Homo sapiens: one gene and its partners. The protein of the gene in region 6 interacts with the protein of the main gene of each other region in a pairwise test. Each region holds a gene or a part of one and is shown on either strand. Other genes may lie near its edges.

Region 1 (3,500 bases), on a different chromosome or scaffold from region 6:
TTTCTCCCATTCTGTGGGTTGTCTCTTCACTTTGTTGATTGTTTCCTTTGCTATACAGCAGCTTTTTTACTTGATGTGATCCCATTTGTCCATTTTTGTTTTGGTTGCCTGTACTTTTGAGATCTTTCTTAAGAATTCTTTCCCCAGACCACTGTCCCAGAGAGTTTCCCCAGTGTTTTCTCTTGGTAATTTTATAGTTTCAGGTCTTATATTTAAGTCTTTAATCCACTTTGATTTGTAAAATCAGGCTTTTATCAGCCTTTTATCAGGTTGGGGAAGTTTTTTTAATCATGATTGGATAATGGATTTTGCCAAATGTGTTTTCTGCATCTATCAAGATGATCAGATGGTTTGTGACCACATTCTACTGTATAGTGTATTATATTAATGAGTTCAGATGTTAAACCAACCTTCCATTTCTAGGATAAACTCCCCTTGATCATAATGTATTATCCTTTGTATATGTTGCTAGATTTGGTTTGCCAATATTTTGTTGAGGATTTTTGTGTCCATATTCATGAAGGGTATTCATTTGTTATTTTCTTGTGATGTCTTTGTCTGGCTTTGGTATCAGGGTAATACTGACCTCATAGAACAAGTGAGAGTTTCCTTCTCTATCTTCTGTTAGAGTTTTCAAAATACTCATGTTGTTTCTTCTTTAATGGTTTGGTAGAATACATCACTGATGCCATCTGAGCCTGGGCTTAACCTTGTATAAATATTTTTAATTACTAATTTAATTTTTTTACTTGTTATAGATCTATTCAGATTTTCTATTTTTCTGTTATTTTTTTATCACTATTTTTTTGGTATTTTTTATCTTTTTAGAGTGTTTTTCCAGTGCGTTAGCTTACATATGGGTAAGTTTGCTTCTTAACTAGCGTACACTTTCACTAGTTAAGAAACTAGTCATAATGGCTTCTTTTTTTTAACTTTTTTTTTTTTTTTCTGAGACAGGATCTTGTTCTGTCACCCAGGCTGGAGTGCAGTGGTGTGATCTCAGCTCACTGTAGCCTCCGCCTCCTGGGCTCAAGCAGTCCTCTCCCGTCAGCCTCCCAAGTAGCTGGAGAAGCCGAGCGCCACCACACTCGGCTAATTTTTGCAATTTTAGTGGAGACGGGGTTTTGACATGTTGCCCAGCCTGACCTTGAACTCCTCGGCTCAAGCCATCAACCCATCTCAGCCTCCCACAGTGCTGATATTACAGGCATGAGCCACCGTCCCTGATTGATGAGGTTTTTTATTTCCTAAAAGCCACTGCCCTGAGGGCCCCTGCCCCTTCCTCAGGCTCCCCTACATCTCTCCACAAGTCAGCCTCCAACGGTTCACACCTGGAAAAGCAGGGGACCTTCAGAACTGAGCTCCAGCCTAGTTGGCACCTATATAGATTGGTTGGCCCTCCTGCTATTTCAGTTATTATTTTGAACATCACCACTTGGAAGACTGAGACTCCACTTCAGACCTCTTCTTCCTAACACCCTGATCTGGGGCTGATTATGTGCTTTAACATTCTACTGGGCAGGTCTGGCAGAAGGAACAGTATCAACTGACTGAGTAGGTCTCATTGGCAGTTGTGATTCAGAGACCTAGAAAGCTGAACCCACGGCTGGCAAGAAGAGGATGGTTTGTGGGACCTGGGCTGATGTCTGATGAAATTTTAAGCCCCAGCTATAGCTACTACAAAGAAAAGTGGCTGATGATAAGCATGTAACTCAAAGTAAGTGAACTGAGAAGCATGTTTTTTGTTTGTTTGTTTGTTTGTTTGTTTGAGACAGTTTCGCTCTTGTTGCCCAGGGTGGAGTGCAGTGGCACAATCTCGGCTCACTGCAACCTCTGCCTCCCAGGTTCAAGCGATTCTTGTGCCTCAGCCTCCGAGTCGCTGGGATTACCAGGTGTGTGCCACCACACCTGGCTAATTTTTTGTATTAGTAGAGACAGGGTTTCTCCATGTTGGTCAGGCTGGCCTCGAACTCCCGACCTCAGGTGATCTGCCAGCCTTAGCCTCTCAAAGTGGTGGGATTACAGGCATGAGCCCCCGCGCCCTGCCTGAGAAGTATGTTTTTATGTTGAGGATGTTACTGTGTGATGCCACATACATTGAAACACATACATTTAAAGTAAGGCCACAGACTCAAATGCCTCTAGAAGCCAGACAGGTAGCATACCTCCTCCTTTCATTGATTCAGAGACGTACATTTTTTTTGGCATTTGAACATCTCTGAAATTAGAGTGAACGTTACAATTGCAAGTCAAATGGTGTATAAAAAAGCAGCATCTTTATAGTCAGTGGTGCTTTAGATTAGACGAAATAACAGAAAATGAGTGGTGTTGGCCAGGAAAATTATATCCTTCTCTGTTGGCCTTTCACTTTGAAAGAGAGAAATGGATACAGAGACCTACTTTCCTACAATAAGACACAAGAACAATGACAAATGGGAACGACTTTGCTGCCTTCATGTCCGGTAGCCAATAGGGATTGGTGGCAACAGGCAAACTGGAGAGTACCCTTGCCCCCAGGGCAGCTCCCCCTCTTCCCTAGCTGATTATTGCCTGTGGTGGCATAGATCTAGTGTTGACAAGTGTTCTGAGTTTTCAAAGGAAGTCAGAAACCCCAAAATCTACATCTTCATGTGAAACTCCTAATTTTAAAATGATGGCTCAATTTTTTTTAACTGGCGAAAAAAAATATATATATACAAGTTAGATGAGCCTATGAGTGCTCAGAATAAATATAACCTCTCTTTTAAGGATGCAATATTAAGAGGCAGCATGAGACAAACCAGTTTTTACAATTAAGCCAAAAAAGAAAAGTTAAATCCATTTCGAAGTTTAACACTAGGTTCAGAGGCCCAGAATAACAAATACTGCAGGGCCTCTTACTTATTTCATCTTTAAACTTTCTTTTCTGCCTCCCACTAAATGGAAGATAAGAAAATATAGTTAAATCTATTGAAGATGTTGCATTCCTGTTTATAAAAATGTATGATCACTTTTTAAAATGCAGGCTTAGGTTTCCAAAGCAACAGCATTTGCTTCCCACTGCTGTAGACTGTGGTCAGTGAAAGGCAGGATGATGTCATGGGAAACCCCCAAATTATGAGAAGACCAGGGTGCTAATTCTGGCTGTGTGATGTGCAACTGATTTAGGTTCATTTCATCGTCTTTATTTATAAAATGGGGATGATAATAGCTACCCTCTGTACCTTACATGGTTGTAAGGGCCACATGAGATAAAACATGTGAAAGTATAAAGTGTTATGTATATATTAGTTGGTATTGCCCAAATCACATGGGTAGTTGGGACAGCACAGGTTCTTGAATCTCAGATTCTCCATCTCTGGCTACTGCTCTTTCCCTAGACTGCAGCACCTGTTGAAATGGTCATCTTATCAGCCAGTGGGGTTGAACAGATGAGGAAGCATAAGGCAAGAAGTTATTAGAAAAAAGTTAGCCAACATCTTAGGATCTCAAATAGCACTGTGTCTCTGTACAACAGGGTG
Region 2 (3,500 bases), about 81 Mb from region 6:
CTTTGAAAAACATCATTCTCGGAGCTCCGGAAAAACATCCCCTCGGAGCTCCCGCTGTCAGATCCGGGTCTCCAGGGCTCATATTCAGTAACAGAAGCCGCACCTTCACGGCCCACTGCGCAATTCAGACCCTAGTCAACCTCCAGCCAACAGGCTGAGGGGCACACTGGCTGGAAGCATGGAAGGGAAAAAAAGTTTTTTTTTTTAAACATAAGGAACATCCGAAGTTTATCTGGACAACGAGGAATCTTGCATTAAAAAAGGAAAACAAATGACATCACATGTGCTACTTACATTTACTCTCTGAGCTCGGGAGAGGGCCGGCCCCGGCCCGGGGCGGCGGGAAGGAGAGGCAGCCCAGTCCCAGCTGTGGGCTCTTCTCGGCCTCCTTATACACCACCTGAAAGACACAAGGTGGCCACGCCCGGCTCAGGACAGGGACCCGGAAGCCAAGGATGGACGTGGCAAATGCCCATGACAGCGCATGGTCAACAGGTGTGCCTGCCATGACAGCTGGTCCTGCTGCCACCGGGAGAGACGGAAGCACGAACCCCGCAGTCCCGAGAGCTGAGATCACCCAGCCACCCTCTCTCGTGTCCTGCTGAGGAGCCCACCCTTTGAGACACAGGCAGCAAATGTGTGCCCTGTGATTACAGACGGGAGACCACTGCAGCCACCATCATCCAGCAAGGGAGTGGGCTCAGCCTTCCCTCCGTGATAAGAGGATACAGAGAACACTTGCACCAACACAGCAGAGGCCCCGGGAGCAGCAGACACAGACCCGAGGTGGGGGCATCTGTGCCCGAGAGCCTGGCAAGCAAAGGACAGCGGCCCAGGCTCAGTGGAAGGCGGGCAGCCCCTACGCCCCTGAAGAGCCCCAGGTAAGGGAGTCACCTGGCCTGGTTCATGCCTTTAAAGCATGCTCTGCTGCTGTGTGGCGAAGGGATTTGGAGAATGCAGGAATCACAGGCAAACCTTCAGGACCTGTGTGGCCAGCCCTGCTCGGGCTCACCTGTCCAGACACCCTGGCCTCCAGCCACACAAGCCACTGGCCACGTCAGGAGGCCCCTCTGCCTGAAACACCCTTTCTGCCCAGACACCGCGCAGCTCCTCCTCCTGGTCTTCACTTAAACACCCCTCCAGGATGCATCCCCGGCAGTGGCTGATCTGGCATGCGCAGCCCCAGCCACTCACTGGCCTCTTCATCGAATCCAAGCCGCCTTTCACTCAGCTCTGTCGGTTACAGGTCAACACCAGGAGGGCAGCATTTGTCTCTGGCTCCCAGCGCAGTGCCCGCTGCACACATGGATGCGTGGCCCACTCCTCGGGGCCTTTGCATTTCCTGTTCCCTTGGCCTGGAACGCTCCCTCCCCGAGTCCCTGATCACTGGTGCAGCATCTGTGCCTGCGATCCCTCGCTGGTGGCCACTCCCTGCCACCCCGTGGAGACACCCAGCTCTCCAGCCCCTTCCCTGTCTCTCCAGCCGCACTCTGCAAGTGCAGGGGTCTGTCTCTTCTTCTCTGGCTGCGGCCCAGAGCACAGTGCCTGGCACGACAGCAGATGCCCAGTGTTTGGGGGCAGGAGACCCTGGCCACTCTGTACAGCACAGGGATCTGCATCCAGACAGACCACAAAGGAGAAAACTGGACTGGGGTGGCAGCGGCAGAGGACAGGCCAGGGCAAGGCCCACTTCAGACCCTTTGGGCAGCGTGGAGGAGGAAGAACAAAGGCCAGGGCAGGGCCAGACGCGTGAAATGTCACAGTAGCAAGTTTACGGTGATGGAAGTGCCCGGTTAAATAATAAACCACAATCAAGAAAGCAAAGTGAAGGAGCAGTTTCCCACCGCCCTCCCCAACAGCCTGCTCAGGCAGAAACACGTGTTCCAGACTTACTATCTTGGGATCATTAATGGCTGCAGGATGCCCAAACTCCGTGATCATTTTCCAAGTCACGTGATTAAGGATGCGCACCTGAGGAAGGAAACCATGCACAGGTGAGGCAGGGCCCGGCCCGCTGGGCGGTCGGACTTCCTGAGTGCCCTGCACTGGTTCCCACCTTTCCATCATAGCTCCCAACTGCCAGGAACTGACTGCTGGGGCTCCAGGCCACAGACTTGATGCCCAGGGACCACTCGTAAGCGCTGTACGTGGACAACAACCGGCCATCCAATGAGTACAGCAGAATCTTGTACTGCAGATGAGACATTTCAGTTAATAATGAATACACCCCCGTCGCCAGGAACACACCACAGACGCGGGTGCTGCAGAGTGACATTGGTGCAGATAGCACAAAGCTGGCAGGACTGTCCGCGTGGCCGTGGAAAAGCTGGAACTGCCAGCTAGTACTGAGATAGTCACGGAGAGGCAGTGAGAGCATGAGGAAAAAGGGGAAATTGGGAGGTCAACCTAATGGCTCGCTGATAAAAGTTCAACTCGGCCGGGCACTGTGGCTCACGCCTGTAATCCCAGCACTTTGGGAGGCCGAAGCTGGCAGATCACTTGAACACAGAAGTTCAAGAGCAGTCTGGGCAACACGGTGAAACCCCATCTCTACAAAGAATACAAAAATTAGCCGGGCGTGGTGGTGCATGCTTGTGGTCCCAGCTACTTGGGAGGCTGAGGTAGGAGGATCACTTGAGTCCAGGAGGTCGAGGCTGCAGTGGGCCGTGATCACACCACTGCACTCCAGCCTGGGTGACAGAGCAAGACCCTGTCTTTTAAAACAAAGCTCAACTTGTTATCTGAAATAAGATAAAGCAAACTATATTGCAGCATTCAGAAAGCATGAAATTCCGGGAAAAGCTCTCGAAAGCAAACATGTCACCTGGTCATCTTCATACCTCCAAGCAGGTGTCCCACACTGCCAGCACACAGCCGTTTGGGGCCCACTCAATCCCTGTGAGATCCTGGGTGTCCGTATCAAAATGCTTCCAAAGGAAGGGGGGGAAACATTAAATTTGGAAAATATTTTCGTAAATAAATAATTGCATTTATGACTGATGTTCTTAACGCACTTAATTTCCTTATATAGAAATTGACAAAATCTCAACAGCTCTATCCTGGAAATGCATGAAATCCCTGTAGAGCTGCTGCTGGGGCTGCACCGCCACAGATGCCAGCGTCAGTGCCTGGCCAGCCCCCAAGGGCGGCTTGGTCTCCCCGCGCCTGCACTCGTGTGCACACTCTCCCCCTCACCTTTCCTTGCCTGGCCAGCCCCCGAGGGCGGCTTGGTCTCCCCGCGCCTGCACTCGTGTGCACACTCTCCCCCTCACCTTTCCTTGCCTGGCCAGCCCCCGAAGGTGGCTTGGTCTCCCCGCACCTGCACTCATGTGCACACTCTCCCCCTCACCTTTCCTTGCCTGGCCAGGCTCACTCCTTTAGACCCAGCTCAGACAAGTCCCTTCCAGAGCACTGCCTGGATCCCGGGTTCTGCACTCTGACAGCATTCCAGAGGTTGCTCTACCTTAATGATGGATTGTGCTGGAATCGTGTTCATATGT
Region 3 (3,500 bases), on a different chromosome or scaffold from region 6:
GGAGACAGTAACATCTACCGGAAACCCCCGATCTACAAACGGCATGGTATGGTCAGAGGTAGATAGGGCTTGGCCACACAAGGAGAGGGGGGAGGTTAACCATCTATGCAGATGGCCCTGCACAGGCCACCAGGAGCCACAAAACACAAGGCTGCATCTTGGTCCTTCTTGTTGACTGCCCCATCACCCAGGGTGACATTAGGGCAGAGTTTGGTATCATTTCAAAAGAACAAAGTCCTCATGTCCCCTCAGTTCTTTCCCACCACCTTTGCAATCTCCCCCTTACCTGCTCTCTGTCATCCTAAGTTCCATAATTGGTAAAACCTTTGTAAAACGCACATGCCCCTGGGAGAGTCACACTCCAAGGCATTAATACTTGAAATGTTCATTAGAATAACAGGGGATGCATACAGATTCCTGGGCCCCACCCCAGGCTTACTGAATTCGAATTCTGTATGTGTCACGGTTTCTCCAAGTGATTCTGATACTCAGCCCAACTTGGGAACCCCTGCTGTAAGTTGTTCTCAGTCACAGTCTCCTGAGAGTGGATGGAGACTTGCAGAGGAGATGTAGATGAGTAAGGTTGCAGAGGGTGACTTCCTTCTTTCATTCATTCATTGATTTAGTGTTTCTTAAAGAATGATCTATGGACCATCTGCACCTGAGAGACATTTAAAAGGCAGATTCCCTGGCCCCTTCCTTGCCCCAGACTCCCTTAATTATAAATATTGAGAGTGTGAACTAAGAATCTGCACTATAACTGGCTTTGTCCATGATTCCTCCCTGCACTTAGTATGAGAACCACCAAGTCATTCATCACTGACACCACCTGTTCACTTTTGCAAAAAGTACTTACTAAGCCTCGATTGAAGGAGCACATCCCTTCCATTGAAGCTGCAGAGGAGCAGCTGCCACCCTGTGCACCCACACTTGCTTAAGGGTCTAGCTGGATAACAAAAGGAGGCCCAGAATCGGTGGAGCTTGGAGATGAGCGAAGCAGTCCTGCACCAGGTTCTGAACTAATTAGCTGGTGGAGGGGACAATACGAGTTTAAACAGCGGCTCTGGGTGCCTAAGATTCTACATTTTATACAGACATCCTTGGTTCCAGAGGGGGCTGAGCAGGGGGGTCCGAGGTGAGTCTGTGAGCATGTGCAAGTCTGTACCAGCTTGTGAAGGACATGCCATGTCCCCTGAGTACTCATAGAAAGACACCAACATGACAAAGGTAGTTTGGCTTTATACCTAGAAAAGGCCCCCAGGTCACAAGCTTCTCAGGACTTTGTGGGATTTTCCAGGTGGGCCCTGAGGGGTGGCACTAAAGCAGACTCAAGAGGAGTCTGGGGTGGAGGTGGGTTGCTTGGAAAAGAGGGCGGAGGAAAAAGCTAAATGCAGTCAGCCAGGAGGGGCTGCCCAGGACCCAAGTCAAAGAGAAGAATTTGAAAGCTTTGGAAGCAAGTGCTGTTGTGGGGGCTGCATAGCCCAGGGCTGGCTGAAGCTGATCCACCACGCTCTGCCACTCTGGCTCCACAGAGCACAGAGCTTGTCCCTAAAGCTTCCTGTAGCTGACCATGAGAAATGGTCATGCAGCCACACACACTTCCCCAGCCCCTCTCTCTGCTCTACCAGCCTGTCACCCACGTTTGGGCCACGAGAAGTCACTGCTCTGTAAGTAGTTGTGACTGCAGTGGGTCTTTTTGGTCACCCCTGTCCTGGGCTTACTTCAGGTGGAAGCTTGAAGCTGGATGGCAGCTGAGCCAGCAGACCGATTCTGACACTTACAGATGAGGAAACTAAGGCAGAGATGGTAGGACCTGCCCAGTGTTACAGCTGAGTAAAGTGGCAGAGCTGGGACCAGAACCCAGGTTTGCTGACTCCCTGTCTAGCACTCCTTCCTTCAGGCTATGTAGTCCCTGAGCAGAATGTGGCATCTCAGGTTGTGAGAAATGATGGAGTTCAAATTTATAACAAGGAAGGCTTCTAAAGGGCTAGGAAGGCTTCTAAAGGGCTGGGGCTCACCTGGGACCTGTCCAGTCTTATTTGAGGAGCCACACCCTTAGAGGTCATTCTGGAACAGACCTGGGAATCCATGGAATGTGCTGGAAAGAGCCCTGGGCTGGGATCTGGTCCAGTTCTGGTGCTCACATGCTATGTGGTCTTAAGCAAGCCCCTTCCCCTCTCTGGTGCTCCAATTACTAAATGCAAAATGAGGGTTTGGCCCCAGTGCTTTTCCAGCTCCGATGCTCCATGGCCCAGTTCTAACAGAGAGCCCTGATCTTGAAGTGGACTCACTCCCCTGGGCTGGAGCCTGGTAAAGATAGGAAAAGGGTACACAGTCCCATCCCGGTCACTCTGCCTTCCTGAAGTGCTCTCCTTGGGTCCTCTGCAGGTGATTTGTCTACAGCAACCAAGAGCAAAACAAGTGAAGACATCAGCCAGACCTCCAAGTACAGTCCCATCTACTCGCCAGACCCCTACTATGCTTCGGAGTCTGAGTACTGGACCTACCATGGGTCCCCCAAAGGTAGTACCCCCATAGGAGCCTGGGTCCAGGGCCCTAACACCTGTGCCAAGGACACGGGTGTTCAGAACAGTTGCCCACTCCTTTATACAATCATTCTGAATAAGAGTGCTTAGAGGGTTTATAACTAAGGGTGTTTATTCATTCAACAAATATGTACTAAACACTGGCCATGGACCCTAGCAATACACTGGGGAGCAAAACAGACCAGGTCCCTGCCCTTGTGGAGAAGACATAGGCCCCAGCCATGAGAGGGAGGTGATGCGCAGAAGGTAGGAGAGCTGATGGCAGGGGCCTGCTGTCCAGCCTGAAGATGACAAAAGTTTCTCAATGCAGCCACTCAGCTGCCATCAGGAGGGTGGCAAGGATGTAACACAGCAGAGAGTGTAGAAATACTTCTGCAAAGACCCAGGATGTGAGAGAGGATTCCACTGGAGGAAAGAAAAGGCTGTCCACTTAACCTTGAACTCAGAGAGGAAGAGAAGCAGTAGAGGTGAGGGAGGAGGTCCCCCAGGGTTTTGAGGGTTGAGGTAAGGATTTTGGTTGTTATCCTAAACAGTGAGTGGCATGATCACATTGAAAGTAGTGGCATGATCACATTTGTGCTTTTGAGAGACCACTTTGGCTGTAGGGTAAAAAATGGTTGGGAGGATGGAGAAAGAGAGGATGTGGGGAGGTGGAAGGCTCCTGGTAAGGGGTCTCAGTGGTCCTCAGATACCACCTCACCCAATCATACAACCCAAGCTGTTCCTTTCAAGTATGGGGGGAAATTTTTCCCCCCATCAAGATCCACTCTGATTCAATGTCTTTACTAATTCAATGTCCATTCTGAGCAAAGCTTCACAGAAGCTCAGAGATGACTCTTTGGTGCTGGGCACAGTGGCTCACGCCCGTAATCCCAGCACTTTGGGAGGCCAAGTTGGGAAGATCACTTGAGCCCAGGAAATTGAGACCAGCCTGGACAACATAGCACTTCTTCT
Region 4 (3,500 bases), on a different chromosome or scaffold from region 6:
TCATCAGTCTCCTGTGAGTTTGGTTACTGGGTGTCAGTGCCCTGAAGCCTTACTGGCTCTGGGTGCCACAATCGCACCCGTCTGTCTGGATCTGCAGGGCTGCTCATTAGCACCTCTGGGTCACAAAAGGTCTTGACTTCTGATCAGGCCCTGCCTGCCTTTTTGATCAATTAATACCTCTAGTTCCTTCACTTCTTTAAAAAGCATGCTGTATCTCACTAACACATGGATTCTGTGTTCATTTACAGCCTACAGACAGGAAGGAAATCCATTCTCTGGGGCCTGCGCATGGCTGGAAAGCAGTTACGTAACCACCCACAGGGGGCAAACATCTCGTATCCCTAGGAACGGCTGGGACAAAATGGAAGCCACATCAACCTCCCTCACTGGCCAGGACAAGACAGGTGAGACACTGGACAGTGACCGCGCAAGGATGCCCTGCAGCCCCCGTGATCACCACAGAAGATGCCACCTGGGGACCGAGGGTGGCTGTGCGTGCCAGCCTTCTGGTGCCCTCCCCGCCTGCGGTCACCTGTCTGAAGAGCAGCTCCTGCTCACTGGGCTGGCGCTGGCCCGGCTCCACCTCCCGTGGGGGCTCTGCCTCTTCCTCATCGCTCTCAATGGGCTCCTGCTTCACCTGCACGCCGGCCTGTGCGTGCGCCTCCTTCTGCCCCGGCAGCCGGTCCAGGTAGGGCTCGTCCAGCAGAGCCTGGTGCTCACGGAGCTCCTCCTCCGTCTCCTCCGGGTGGCTCTCCGGCTGCCGGGCTGGCTCGCTTGGCTTGGGGATGATCTGCAAGGCGGAGGTAACACATGAAGCACAGAGAGCTGGGTCCTCTGAGCTCATCTGACAGGAGAAGGGATGCTGCAAACCCCACCCTCTGGGGCAGACAATCAGGGACTCAGGGCACCTTATCACCCTGCCACAGGCCAGCAGGCACCTTTATCTCCCAACAGGCACTGGGGTGCCTGAGTGCCTAAGAAAATAATGCCCAGTAGGACCCCAGCCCAGGGTCAAGGTGACCTGGCCCAGGGAAGGAGGCTGACTAACATTTGGGGTTTACTAAGCACCTCTTCTGTGTCAGGCACCGAGAAACAGAAAAGAAGCTGCAGGTGTCAACAGAGTCTGCAGAGGAGAGCTTGAGTGTGAAGGGGAGAGGCCAATGCTGACCTCACAGCCACAACTGCTAAGAGAAACAGCCCACCACCCACTCAGCGGAAGACAACCACGTCCACAATGCTCACTGCCCAATCCCACCAACACGCCACGGCCTCCCCTCCTGCAGGATCCCACCGATGTGCCATGACCTCCCTCCTGCCGGATCCTGGGAACACTCCAGGACCTCCCTTCCTGCTGAATCCCAGGGATGCCACGGCCTCCCCTTCTGCAGGATCTCAGGGACACCATGACCTCCTTTCTTGCAGGATTCCATGGGTGCTCCATGACCTGCCCCGCTATGGGGCCCCAAGAACCGCAACATCCTCCCTCCTGTGGGACTCCCTAGATGCCCCCGACCTCTTTTCCTGTTGGATCTCACGGACGCTTCTCGGTCTCCCTCCCCGGCCTCTCAGTGCGGAACAGGCGGCAGGTGCTCCTCTCCTGCTCCCCGCCTGCTCCTCCGTCTTGGTTTGTCCTGGGCCTGCTCCTCGGCTCATTTCCCCATTCTGGATTCCAAGTATCAGCGACTCCCAAAGGTGGTGCTGAGCCCAAACTCGCTCTTTACCTCCAGACCTAATGGCCTGCCAGACGCCTCAGCTTAGCCTAGAGTGCCCATGAGCCCCAGCACAGCAGGTCCAATGCCGAACGCAGGGCAGCTTCTTCCAAGCCTCTCCCTTCTCTAGGACCTGTTCTTGGCTATTGGGACCTCTCTCTGGCCAGCTGTCCAGTCACACCCCAAGCTCCCAATTCTGTCCGCCAAGCACTGCCCATGCATTGCTCACGAGAAACGCCTCTGGACGGTGCTGCTTCTCTCCAGCCTCGACCTCCTGCCTTTCCTGCTTTGCCCCACCTGGCCTCTCCTGCCTGGATGACAGCATGGCTCCTGGGAGGCCCCCACCTCCAGCGTCAACGCTTTGCAATCTTCTTCATGTAGCAGTGAGGGCACGCTTTCAAACGGGCCAGTGGACCTGGTCACTCCCCTGCTGAATGTCCCCCAAGTGCTCTTCTGCCATCCTGCCTCTGCTGAAGAGCCCCTCCATCGTGTGGCCATGTTGCCCCTGCAGCCTCCCTGCCACCCTGCTCCCGACCACGCCGCTGGCTCTGCATCCCTCATGCCACACTCGCCTCCAGCCCGCTGCTTGCCTTCCTTCCTCGGCCTCCAGCCACTCCAAGAGGCTTTGTGAGCCTCCCGTGCATGTCACCTTTTCCAGGGTCAGCTGATCTTCCTGATAGGGCAATGTGCCCTCCTCCAGCACCCCCCGACCCCAGTCCTCTGGCTTTTCTGTGGTTGCCATTCATGTATCCATCTTTCCTGCAGTCTGCAGTTCCCAGGAGGGTAGGGACCACTTCTGACTCATCCACGTGGCACAGGCATTGCTCATCGCACATTCACTAAAAGGATGGGGCAAATGCAAGGGGTGTCCGCGTAGTGGGGCAAAGTGGAACAGGGTGTATGGCTGACCTCAATGCGCTCTGGGAGCTGTGGGAAGCCAGCAGGGCTGCAGCGTGGAAGGCCAGAGAACAGGAACACAGGGTGCCGGAGACGAGGTGGGGCTGTGGGAAGGGCACTCTGGGCTGAAAACAAGCAGGTGCACGTTCTAGAAGCATGCCCTGCTGCAGACAGGCCAGAGGTTGAAAGGGTGAGGCCAGCCCCACGTCTGGCTAAGGCATGGGAGAAAGAACAGGTTTCCATGACACCAAAAAGGAAGCAGCTCTAGGCCCAGGGACAGACTGCATATGGAGAGGCAAGAGAGGGTGGCCAGGACAACTCCTTCGTTTTGGGCAATGGAGCTGCCCCATCACATCTGGGAGCCAGAAAAGGGATGAATGTGAGCAGAGCAAAGGCTGGAGTTGAGAACAAGAGGGGAGAGAGGGATGCGGGAAGTGGCAAAAAAAAAAAAAAAAAAAAAAGCTCAGGAGAGAGGGCGGGGGTCTGGAGTTAGACTAGGAAGGGCGCACAGGGAGTTTCTCAGAAGAAGGCACTGACTGAGCTGCATTCCTCTGCAGACTGTGAAAGAACGTCCCACAATCCCAAAGTCCCAGATCGAGGGGTCTCTCCGGATGCTCGATTCATCTGTCCCCGTGGGGAACGGCCTGAAGGGCAGATTCGAGGGACGGTGGGACAAGCCGAGTTCCTGGCAGAGAGAGGAGCTACAGCGCGTGGAGGATGGATCTCGGCACCGCATCCGACTGTTTCCAGAAGGAAACTGAGGTGTGCAAGGAAGACTGACACCTGAAATCCCCCGAGCCCTTGCATTTCAACACCCTTAGAGCACTGCATGCTGCTCCACACTCACGCGAGGCGGCCTCTCCAGCAGCCTGAACTACGGGGCACGGGTTGGTG
Region 5 (3,500 bases), on a different chromosome or scaffold from region 6:
GAGATTACAGGCGTGAGCCACCACGCCCAGCCTTGATTTTTTTAAAAATATGAGTGTAATGTATTTCCCCTGCTAATTAAGTAATTAACTAAAATTAAATAAAGGTCAGGAGACAGAAGAGTACAAGAAAGAAGGAAAAATGGTTAATCTTTTTTTTTTTTTTTTTTTTTTTGTGTGTGTGTGTGTGAGATGGAATCTCGCTCTGTCGCCCAGACTGGAGTGTGGAGTACAGTGGCACAATCTTGGCTCACTGCAATCTCTGCCTCCCGGGTTCAGGCGATTCTCATACCTCACCCTCCCAAGTAGCTAGGATTACAGGTGTGCACCACGACACCTGGCTAATTTTTGTATTTTTAGTAGAGACGGGGTTTCATCATGTTGGCCAGGCTGATCTCGAACTCCCAGTCTCAAGTGATGTGCCCGCCTCGGCCTCCCAAAGTGCTGGGATTACAGGTGTGAGCCATCATGCCCAGCCAAAATGGTTAGTCTTAATTTTGTCATGCAGAGTTATGCTTGGAAGAAGTGTTTTCTGGTCAGTAATTTGTGAGTCTTTAAATTGCAATACTAGAAGCCAGATATGCATCTAATATGTGTATGTATGATCTTTCATAAACATAGGAGTTTAAGACCAAACTGGCCAACATGGTGAAACCCAATCTCTACTAAAAGTACAAAAATTAGCTGGATGCAGTGGTGTGTTAGACATTTTCTACATGAACTGGTCTTGCTAAGATCACCAGTGACCTTAAAATGTTTACTAGTACTATTTAACCTCTCCACGTATTTCATACTGCTTGGCCATTGCTGCCTGACATTCTCCCCTAGGTTCTATCTTCTCTATCCTTGTTTCACCTGTTCTTCCTTTGTGCCTTTCCTTCCTCTTTTCTTCCATATTTTCCTGGTTCCTTTTTCTTTCTAATAGTCTCTTAAATATTGATCTTTTCCAGAATTCTTTCCTTAGCCTCTTCTTATTTCTAGTAATCTATCTGGGTATTTTTTAAATCCACTCTTATGGTTTTAATTACTACCTGAATATAACTTTGAAATTTGTACATCTCACCTAGATCTCTCTGGGTTTTTTTTTTTTTTTTTTTTGAGACGGAGTCTCGCTCTGTCACCCAGGCTGGAGTGCAGTGGCGCGATCTCGGCTCACTGCCAGCTCTGCCTCCCAGGTTCACACCATTCTCCTGCCTCAGCCTCCTGAGTAGTACACCCAGCCTCCTGAGTAGTACGCCCGGCTAATTTTTTGTATTTTTGGTAAAGATGGGGTTTCACCGTGTTAGCCAGGATGGTCGCGATCTCCTGACCTCGTGATGTTTTGTTTTTTGAGACAGAGTCTTGCTCTGTTGCCCAGGCTGGAATACAGTAGCACAATCTTGGCTCACTGCAACCTCTGCCCCCGCCGGGTTCAAGCAATCCTCCTGCCCCAGCCTCCTTGGTAGCTGGGATTATAGGCTCCCGCCACCATGCCCAGCTAATTTTTCTATTTTTAGTAGAGATTCACCATGTTGGCCAGGCTGGTCTCGAACTCCTGACTTCAGGTGATCCACCCGCCTCAGCCTCCCAAAGTGCTGGGATTGCAGGCGTGAGCCACCATCTGAGAATTTACATTGTACCAGAGCAAAATATTTTAAATTAAAAAACAAGAAACAATTTTAGCCAAAAAAAGGAAAACCACCCCAAAATAGATTTTTTTTAAAGAAATAAGGCGTCAAAGACATTCTAGAAACCTTACCCAATCCAAACTTTGGCCCCAGTTCTAACCCTTGCCCTTGCCTTGTATTGCCTTTATGCCACCAACTTTATAAGCCATGCTTGGTTATGATGATTATTAGAGACACAGGTACTTAAAATAGGACAGGGGTTCTAGCCACTATGTCTTCCAATCCCTGTTATTTGTAAAACTTTATGATAATGGAGAAGTTATATACTGTTGGCATTTTATTATTAAATTAGATGTTTGCCTGTTTTTAAGGTGGCTTGTGTTTTTGTTTTTTGGTTTTTTCTTAGGCATCTGTGGGAAAACTAGAATTGCAGAAGTTGGAGGTGTGCCTTACTTATTGCCTCTTGTAAACCAAAAAAAAGTAAGTACTTTTACTCTGCATATTCACATGAAGATTGTAGAAGTTGGGTTGATTACTGTGTTTATTATTAGAAGACCTGTTGATCAGTTGGCAAGGAAGTGCTAATGGATCAGTAATAAAAGGTAAACCAGGGACTTTGTACAAGTTGTGACTTAAATAATATTTTTTCCTCTTCTATAGGTTTATGATCTGAATAAAATTGCAAAAGAAATCAAGCTGCCTGGAGCCTTTATTCTTGGAGCAGGAGCAGGTCCATTTCAGACTCTCGGGTTCAATTCTGAGGTCAGCATATATAAGAAAATTATTTTACTTTATTGGTTTGACATTTGGTTTGTCTTTTTGCTTTTAGTGCCAAAAATCCTACTTTCTGAGTGAATTGTAAATCTCTCTGCAGGTTTGATACTACTTGATGTAGATTTCTGCTATAGCACACACTCCAACTGGACTAACTGTAATGGAGTACTAACTTGTAGTTTTAGATTTTCTTAGGTCATAGCTTCAGCCTTAGATAAATGCAGGGTTCTATGGTATTCTGTTGAAGGTTCTGGATTATAAAATATTTATATTCTTACAGGATTCCGAGCTTATCTATAAATCTTTGCTTTGGGTATGCAGGCAGCTTTGGATTAGAAGATGAATGGAATATTAGTGATCTAGTCAACTCCTTCTTCCACACCAAATAGTAGGAAACTATCACAATAGTATGATGGTTATTTATGAAAGTTAATAGTTATTACTAGTATATATTATTACCATATGAAAATATTACTGTTTCTTTGAATCTCATGAATACAAGACTTCAGTCTGCTCATTCTCTCATAACCTCTTCAGATATGAATAGTAGTCATACAAGTTCTTTGCAGAAACATTAGTACAATTTGCCTAGTGTTCAAGTTAGGAAAAAAAGTTAAAAATTTAAAATAAGATATTTAACGCAAGTTATAGATACACTGTAAGAAATCCAATAAATATCTTTTTTTTTTTTTTTTTTTTTTTTGAGATGGAGTCTCGCTCTGTCGCCATGCTGGAGTGCAGTGGCGCGATCTTGGCTCACTGCAACCTCCACCTCCCAGGTTCAAGCAATTCTCTTGCCTCAGCCTCTTGAGTAGCTGGGACTACAGGTGTGTGCCACCACGCCCAGCTAATTTTTGTATTTTTAGTAGAGACAGGTTTTCACCATGTTGGCCAGGATGGTCTTGATCTCTTCTCTTGACCTCGTGATCCGCCCCCCTTGGCCTCCCAAAGTGCTGGGATTACAGGCATGAGCCACAGCGCCCGGCCTATAAATGTTTTCCAAGTTTTTTATGTCTAAAATTAAATATTATGTATTTTATGTTCTCTTATTAGGACTTGAACTAAAATGTCTTAAAAGGATTAAATGTTTTGTAACATTATTCAAGATATTCTCTTTGCAGA
Region 6 (3,500 bases):
TATGTGTACAAAATTTGATATGTAGATTAAAATTTGATGTGTAAGTTTAAATGTTATTTTATAGTGTGCTTTGTAATAATTCCTTTAAATAAACATTTCATGTGCCACTAACATTTGATTTTGACTAATAAACACTAGGATGTATAACTTCTTGTTACTGATATTTTAAGGATTCAGTTATTCTAAATCCTTTATTAATTTTAAGCAAAATTGCTTATAAATGTTTTAGGAACAACTGGAAACCTCCAGGAGGGAAATGATTGGGCTTCAGGAAAGAGACAGACAGTTACAATGTAAGAACAGGAATTTGCATCAGCTACTAAAGAATGAGAAAGATGAGGTGAGTTGTCAGTTATTGCAGATGAAGTTTAAGTGAATTTTTGTTTTCTTTGTAATATGAGATGACCATAAGAGCCACTTTACTTGAAAAAAGAAAGAACCATTTATTCATCTTTCCCCAAATTGATATGGTGGACCTTTGTGTAATAGTATTTAACTGGAAGCTCAGGAACCCTCTCCACTACAGACCCCGCCCCCAGTGGATCCATTTGGCTTAGATATTAGTTCATAGCTGGTAACAGCCAGTGTCCTGGACTGCCCTTCCTGGACTCATGTTCACTGTCACTTTTTCTTAGGCACAAGAGTGCTTTAAATGCAGATCTTTTATTCTCTGCTGTACCTGTACGTGATAGCTGAGGTGCCCCTTCTTGCATGCACTGTCTTAAATATTGACATTGTTCGTCTAGTCAACCAGTTTCTTCATTAAATGGGCACAGAAGCAGTTCACATTAAAAATCTAATTTCTGACACAAAAGATACAATTCTGATTTCTGCTTTAGTGGTTACTTAGCAGAATTCTAATTTCTACTTTAGTGGTTACTTGGACCTATAGCACTAATGCATTTCAAAATATATTTTTTAATTTGTGTAGAAAGAAACTATTATGTTTTTATTGCTCTAAAGTATGACCCCTGACCATGTAATAACTATAAAAATATAATACTTAGTTTCAGTGTTTTATATGTTGTTTTAACTACAATTAAAGACTTCTGAGGAGTGTATTTCTTTAAAGCGCCCTGGAGTGGTTTAGATAGATTTGTTTTACCATATTTGTTTATTTAGTAGTATATTTAGTAAGTAGTAGGTAATTAGTATTTAAACTGTAAGGTTGCTTGTACGTGTTTCCTTGAGTTCACAGACAATTTTGACTAGATCTGTTGATTATATTTAAACGGTTTGAATACAGCTCATCTTCGGTAGGGATTAAGTTAATCATGTTGATCCCTAGCAGGGACTGGGAATGGCTTTATAAAAGAATAGGACATACTCTGTCAGGAGTTGCCTGAGAAACTATAATAGATCTAAATTTTGAACAGCAGTGTCTGGCACCTAGTAGATACTCAGCAAATATTTGGACTGGATTATTCTGCTGTTTGGACTTACTCTTACTCGAGAATTGTTTTTAATTAGAAAAACGAGCCTGCTTACCTGCTGCCATGTGTCACAGGCTTAATTCACTTTGTCACAGATTAATAAAAAGTATAAGTGATTGTAAGTCAGTAATACAAGGAGTTCACTAAAAATGATCAGATGAATTCTGTTTATCTCAGATGAAGTTTTAATCGTTTTAATACTTCCATAAGAATATCTGGTTTTTAAATGATCAGAGTCTATATGTAAGGTAAAAGGTATAGGAGATAATTTAGAAAATTAGCGCTTCTGGAAATTTCAGAATTAAAAAAACTTTATGTGATTCATATAATATTTAAAAAAGTGGTTTCTACTGGTTACAAATAAGGAAGAATCATCCTAGGATTTTAAAACCTATATGGGGAGATGAATTTTAGGATTTTTCTCTTTCAAATTTGTGAATCGTTACTGGGCTTATAATAGCAAATGCCTTTTTCAGGTGCAAAAATTACAAAATATCATTGCAAGTCGAGCTACTCAGTATAATCATGATATGAAGAGAAAAGAGCGTGAATATAATAAACTGAAGGAACGTCTACATCAACTTGTTATGAACAAGAAAGATAAGAAAATAGGTAAACAGCTGGCAAAGATCAGCTAAGAGAATAAATAAGCTAATACTATGCTTAGAAATAATTGTAAAAGGATTGAACACAGTAACTCACGAAATGTTATTTTCATGCTTTATACAATTGATTTTCAGTGGTGTTTGTTTATATAAAAAATGTAGACAACTGGTTAGTGGAAAGTAAGTCATTCTGCCTTGCTTTATTTAATTGCATGTATTTTTTAACATGACCAGTGTAGAATTAATCCATAGAGGAAAACTAAGCCAGAGGACATTCTAATTTTCCATAGCAAAGAACTGATAATATTAAAAATCAGTGTCAGTTTCTGAGTATCAAAAGAAGTATTTTAGAGTAAACCTCATAAAATTTTTCATCAGACCAAATCGTTCATGTCAGTTTGAGTTCCTTTAAATAAGTTTAGCTGTACATTTTTGGAGCAGCTAGTCAAAAGGATGGACTATAAAAGTTAGGCGTGTGTGTGTCTAAGGTATACTTTTTTCCTAATAGTAGTCTTTTTCAAAACTTTAAGCCATTTCATCCAAATATGTGGATAATTTCAAGTAGATAGTGTAAATTAAAAAGCAAAGAAACACGAAAGTAGAGCTTTACAATACAGTTTTGCTGGCCTGGTATAAATACGAGGCACAAGAAGTGTGTGTATTTATTTATTGAAGAGTGGTTTCCTAGTGACTATAGGTAGTCCTCTAACATACATTATACCGTGACACCCCTAAACTGTCTTACCTTAGATTTGAAAAACAGGCGATGAGCGTACGTTTCAGGCTGTCATGTGGTAGACTCTGCCTGCTGTCAGCAAGCAGTTTAGTGTTGACTACATCACTGTCATTCTGCAGCAGAGCTGTTGGAGGTATCTGAATACTTTATTTTTTAAATTGTTGAAAAATAGAAATGAAGATTCAGTAATGCGCCGTTAAGATTGGAAATCTTTAGGTATCCTGAGTTAATCTTACTCATTTGGAGAATCATTGGTTTTTAAGTTTAGTTAGCCTCATATTCATTCATGAAGGAAAAAAATTAAAAAGCAGGATGAAATGCTGAAAGTATAAAGTGTAACACAGAGAAGTTTATTAAGGATTTAGTTCTGGAAACAGAGCTCTTCCATTATAGCGGTCTGGCTGTTTCCTGGTCCAATCGGAAGTGACAGTTTCATAATGATTTTATTAACTCTAAGATTATAATAATTTACTCTTTTTCCTTTTTACGCCAAATGTTTCCATGTCCACCTGCAGCAGAAGATATTACTACTATCAGGGGCTTTGACTCCTTTGATGAAAATGATGATGTTAATGTTAACAGGACATGGCAAACTTTTTCTGTATAGATCCATATAGTAAACATTTTCAGCTTTATGGGATCTACAACTTATTTGTTGCACCTACTTATCTCTGCCATTGTAACAAGAAAAGTAGCCATAGGCAGTATATAAACAAGTAGATGTGG
Region 7 (3,496 bases), on a different chromosome or scaffold from region 6:
TTTTCTTTATTGAGTGTTTCTTTTCCATTTTCTTTGTATCTACTCCCTATTATTTCCTTCTTTCTGTGCTCTTACATTTATTTTGTTGTTCTTTTTCTAACTTCTTGAGATGGAGGCTTAGATCATTATTTTAGCCTTTATATATGTATATATGTGTACACATTTAATATCTACTCATATATATTTCTTTCTTTTTGAGATGGAGTTTTGCTCTTGTTGCCCAGGCTAGAGTGAAATGGTGAGATCTTGGTTCACTGAAACCTCCGCCTCCCAGGTTCGAGTGATTCTCCTGCCTCAGCCTCCCGAGTAGCTGGGATTACAGGCACATGCCGCTGTGCCCGGCTAATTTTTGTATTTTTAGTAGAGATGGGGTTTCACGATGCTGACTTCAGGTGATCCACCTGGGCTGGCCTCCCAAAGCGCTGGGATTACAGGCTTGAGCCACCTCGCCCAGCCTAGAATTGTAACTCTCAAACATTCAAAGGAAAACAATGACTTTATTTTTATTTTTTAAATTATTTATTTATTTTAGCCCCCTGCCTTTTTAAATATAAGCTCTCATCATTCAAGCAATGACTTTTTTTAAAAGCCACAAACAATCTGTAATAAATCCAGAGAGGACATAAAAGAGAACATAGAAAGGACAAAAATAGAAAACAAAGTAAGACGGTAGATTTAAATTTATACTTAAATGTAATATCAGTTATTACATTAAATGTAAAGGGACTTAATGCTCCAGCTAAAAGTCATTTTGTCAAACTGAATTTTAAAAATTCCAACTCTACGCTATTTTCCCCCCCAAATGCTGTCACACTCCTAGGAACAGAGAGGTCATTCTGGGTGGAATTCTGGTCTCCCCGCACTTTGGGAGGCCGAGGCAGGTGGATCACTTGAGGCCAGGAGTTCTAGACCAGCTTGGCCAATATGGTGAAACCACAACTCTATAAAATTACATAAATTAGCTGGGTGTGGTGGCGTGCACCTGTAATCCTGGCTACTCAGGAGGCTGAGGCAGGAGAATTGCTTGAACCCAGGAGGTGGAGGTTGCAGTGAGCTGAGATCACGCCACTGCACTCCAGCCTGGGCGACAGAGTGAGACTCTGTCTCAAAAAAACAAAACAAAGAAGAAAAGCAAAGTTACAGTGCTAAAATAATAAAAATGTTTTAGCTCCCTTAGATAGTAAAATGCATACTTATCAAAATGCAGATTTGGCTGGGCGCAGTGGCTCATGCCTGTAATCCCAGCACTTTGGGAGGCCGAGGCGGGCGGATCACCTGAGGTCGGGAGTTTGAGACCAGCCTGACCAACATGGAGAAACCCCGCCTCTACCAAAAATACAAAGTTAGGCAGGCCTGGTGGCGCATCGTGTAATCCCAGCTACTCAGGAGGCTGAGGCAGGAGAATAGCTTGAACCCGGGATGCAGAGGTTGCAGTGAGCAAAGACCGCGCCATTGCACTCCAGCCTGGGCAACAAGAGCGAAACTCCGTCTCAACAACAACAACAACAACAACAACAACAACAAACAACAAATTTTATCCATGTTATTTATTTATTTATTTATTTATTTTGAGACGGAGTCTCGCTCTGTCGCCCAGGCCGGACTGCGGACTGCAGTGGCGCAATCTCGGCTCACTGCAAGCTCCGCTTCCCGGGTTCACGCCATTCTCCTGCCTCAGCCTCCGGAGTAGCTGGGACTACAGGCGCCCGCCACCGCGCCCGGCTAATTTTTTGTATTTTTAGTAGAGACGGGGTTTCACCGTGTTAGCCAGGATGGTCTCGATCTCCTGACCTCGTGATCCGCCCGCCTCGGCCTCCCAAAGTGTATCCATGTTATTTATTCTCCTCCCAGACAGTCATTAACTTGGAACATTTTAACTCAGTTTACTCCCTGCAGACTTTTTTTCCTGTTGTATAATTCTATCACTTAAAAAAACTCCAGAAACTGTTTATGCAATCTTTGTCTAGATTTTCTCATGTATTTTCTACTTCTTTGCTTTTATTTCTTCTTGCATCATGCCCTTCCGTCTGAGATCACTTTCCTTGTGCCTGATGTGAGTACACTGTTTACAATTTTCTTTAGTGTTAGCCTGCTGCTGGCAAACTCTTTCGTTATTTGTCTGCAAAATGTTTTTACTGTAACCTCATTCTTGAAATACTTTTGCTGGGTCTCTGATTTGGGTTAGTGGTTTTCTTTTAGCATGTTGAAAATGTCACCCAACTGTTTTCTGGGTTCCTTTGAAAAGCCAGCTGTCTGTCTGTCTGGTTGTCATGTCTGAAGGTGATGTGTCTTTACCTCTGGCTGCTTTAAGTATCTTTTGCCTTTTTCCCCTTTGTGAATGTTTTTGCTGAAGTGTAACATATACACAAAAGAGTGTGCAAATCATCAATGCTTGATGGATTCTCGAGAGCACACCCATGTCACCTGCATCCAGATTGAAAAATATTCTCTAATTATTTATTTGGAGACAGACTCTCGTTTCGTTGCCCAGGCTGGAGTGCAGTGGCACAATCTCAGCTCACTGCAACCTCTGCCTCCAGGGTTCAAGCCATTCTTGGGCCTCAGCCTCCTGAGTAGCTGGGATTTACAGGCGTGTGCCACTACACCTGGTTAATTTTTGTATTTTTAGTAGAGATGGATTTTCGCCATGTTGGCCAGGCTGGTCTCGAACTCCTGAGCTCAAGTGATTCACCTGCTTCAGCCTCCTAAAGTGCTGGGATTATAGACATGAGCCACTGCACCTGGCCATTCTCTAATATTTTCTAACTTCCATTATATTTTCTTCTTTGACACATGGTGATTGAAAAATGTGCTTTAAAATCTCTCATATTGGCTGGGCATGGTGACTCACACCTGTAATTCCAGCACTGTGGAGGCTGAGGCAGGTGGATCACTTGAGCCCAAGTGCAAGACCAGCCTGGGCAACATGGCAAAACTCCATCTCTACTAAAAATACAAAAAAAAAAAAAAAATAGCTGAGCTTGGTGGTGCTCACCTGTAATCCCAGCTACTTGTGAGACTGAGATGGGAGGACTATTTCAGCCTAGGAGGCCAAGGTTGCAGTGAGCTGACATCGTGCCACTGACTGCACTCCAGCCTGGGCAACAGAGACCCTTTCTCAAAACAAAAACAAAAACAAAAACAAAAACAAAAACAAAAAAAACCTCTCATATTTGGAAATATTTTAAAGTAATTTATTTCTTGTTGAATTCTAACTAATTTCTCTTGAAAATTCCTCAGAGAGTGGGAACTCTAATAATAATTCTTGGAGTTGTGTGGAAACTTCTCGGGGATCTAATACATTTTTTCTTTTGCTTTCTTGCTTTAAAGTCTATTCTGGCCGTGTGTGGTGGCTCACACCTGCCACTAGCACTTTGGGAGGCCAGTGGGGGTGGATCACCTGAGGTCAGGGTTCAAGACCAGCCTGGCCAACATGGCAAAACCCTGTCTCTACTAAAAATAAAAAAAATACAAAAATAAAAAAATTTAGCCAAGC

Evidence for each region.
Region 1: the proteins of SSX2IP (region 6) and TTC23 interact in binary tests that used the Homo sapiens proteins (3 or more experiments, as listed by UniProt).
Region 2: the proteins of SSX2IP (region 6) and WRAP73 interact in binary tests that used the Homo sapiens proteins (3 or more experiments, as listed by UniProt).
Region 3: the proteins of SSX2IP (region 6) and ABLIM3 interact in binary tests that used the Homo sapiens proteins (3 or more experiments, as listed by UniProt).
Region 4: the proteins of SSX2IP (region 6) and HDAC4 interact in binary tests that used the Homo sapiens proteins (3 or more experiments, as listed by UniProt).
Region 5: the proteins of SSX2IP (region 6) and C11orf54 interact in binary tests that used the Homo sapiens proteins (3 or more experiments, as listed by UniProt).
Region 7: the proteins of SSX2IP (region 6) and AP1M1 interact in binary tests that used the Homo sapiens proteins (3 or more experiments, as listed by UniProt).

What each region holds. Positions count from the first base shown.
Region 1 is NC_000015.10:99,239,582-99,243,081, reverse strand, and holds part of TTC23 (tetratricopeptide repeat protein 23), read left to right. Parts: intron 1-1,522; 5' UTR 1,523-1,717; intron 1,718-3,500. UniProt on the Homo sapiens protein: Participates positively in the ciliary Hedgehog (Hh) signaling.
Region 2 is NC_000001.11:3,633,104-3,636,603, forward strand, and holds part of WRAP73 (WD repeat-containing protein WRAP73), read right to left. Parts: intron 2,928-3,500; coding exon 2,841-2,927; intron 2,192-2,840; coding exon 2,057-2,191; intron 1,972-2,056; coding exon 1,894-1,971; intron 401-1,893; coding exon 295-400; intron 1-294.
Region 3 is NC_000005.10:149,242,493-149,245,992, forward strand, and holds part of ABLIM3 (actin-binding LIM protein 3), read left to right. Parts: coding exon 1-46; intron 47-2,388; coding exon 2,389-2,523; intron 2,524-3,500. UniProt on the Homo sapiens protein: May act as scaffold protein. May stimulate ABRA activity and ABRA-dependent SRF transcriptional activity.
Region 4 is NC_000002.12:239,114,521-239,118,020, forward strand, and holds part of HDAC4 (histone deacetylase 4), read right to left. Parts: intron 791-3,500; coding exon 533-790; intron 1-532. UniProt on the Homo sapiens protein: Responsible for the deacetylation of lysine residues on the N-terminal part of the core histones (H2A, H2B, H3 and H4).
Region 5 is NC_000011.10:93,751,672-93,755,171, forward strand, and holds part of C11orf54 (ester hydrolase C11orf54), read left to right. Parts: intron 1-2,010; coding exon 2,011-2,084; exon of another isoform or gene 2,085-2,088; intron 2,089-2,264; coding exon 2,265-2,366; intron 2,367-3,500. UniProt on the Homo sapiens protein: Exhibits ester hydrolase activity on the substrate p-nitrophenyl acetate, in vitro. Regulates DNA damage and repair by regulating HIF1A degradation via chaperone-mediated autophagy (CMA).
Region 6 is NC_000001.11:84,662,962-84,666,461, reverse strand, and holds part of SSX2IP (afadin- and alpha-actinin-binding protein), read left to right. Parts: intron 1-229; coding exon 230-340; intron 341-1,909; coding exon 1,910-2,045; intron 2,046-3,500. UniProt on the Homo sapiens protein: Belongs to an adhesion system, which plays a role in the organization of homotypic, interneuronal and heterotypic cell-cell adherens junctions (AJs).
Region 7 is NC_000019.10:16,242,911-16,246,406, reverse strand, and holds the end of AP1M1 (AP-1 complex subunit mu-1), read right to left. Parts: 3' UTR 501-3,496; downstream 1-500. UniProt on the Homo sapiens protein: Subunit of clathrin-associated adaptor protein complex 1 that plays a role in protein sorting in the trans-Golgi network (TGN) and endosomes.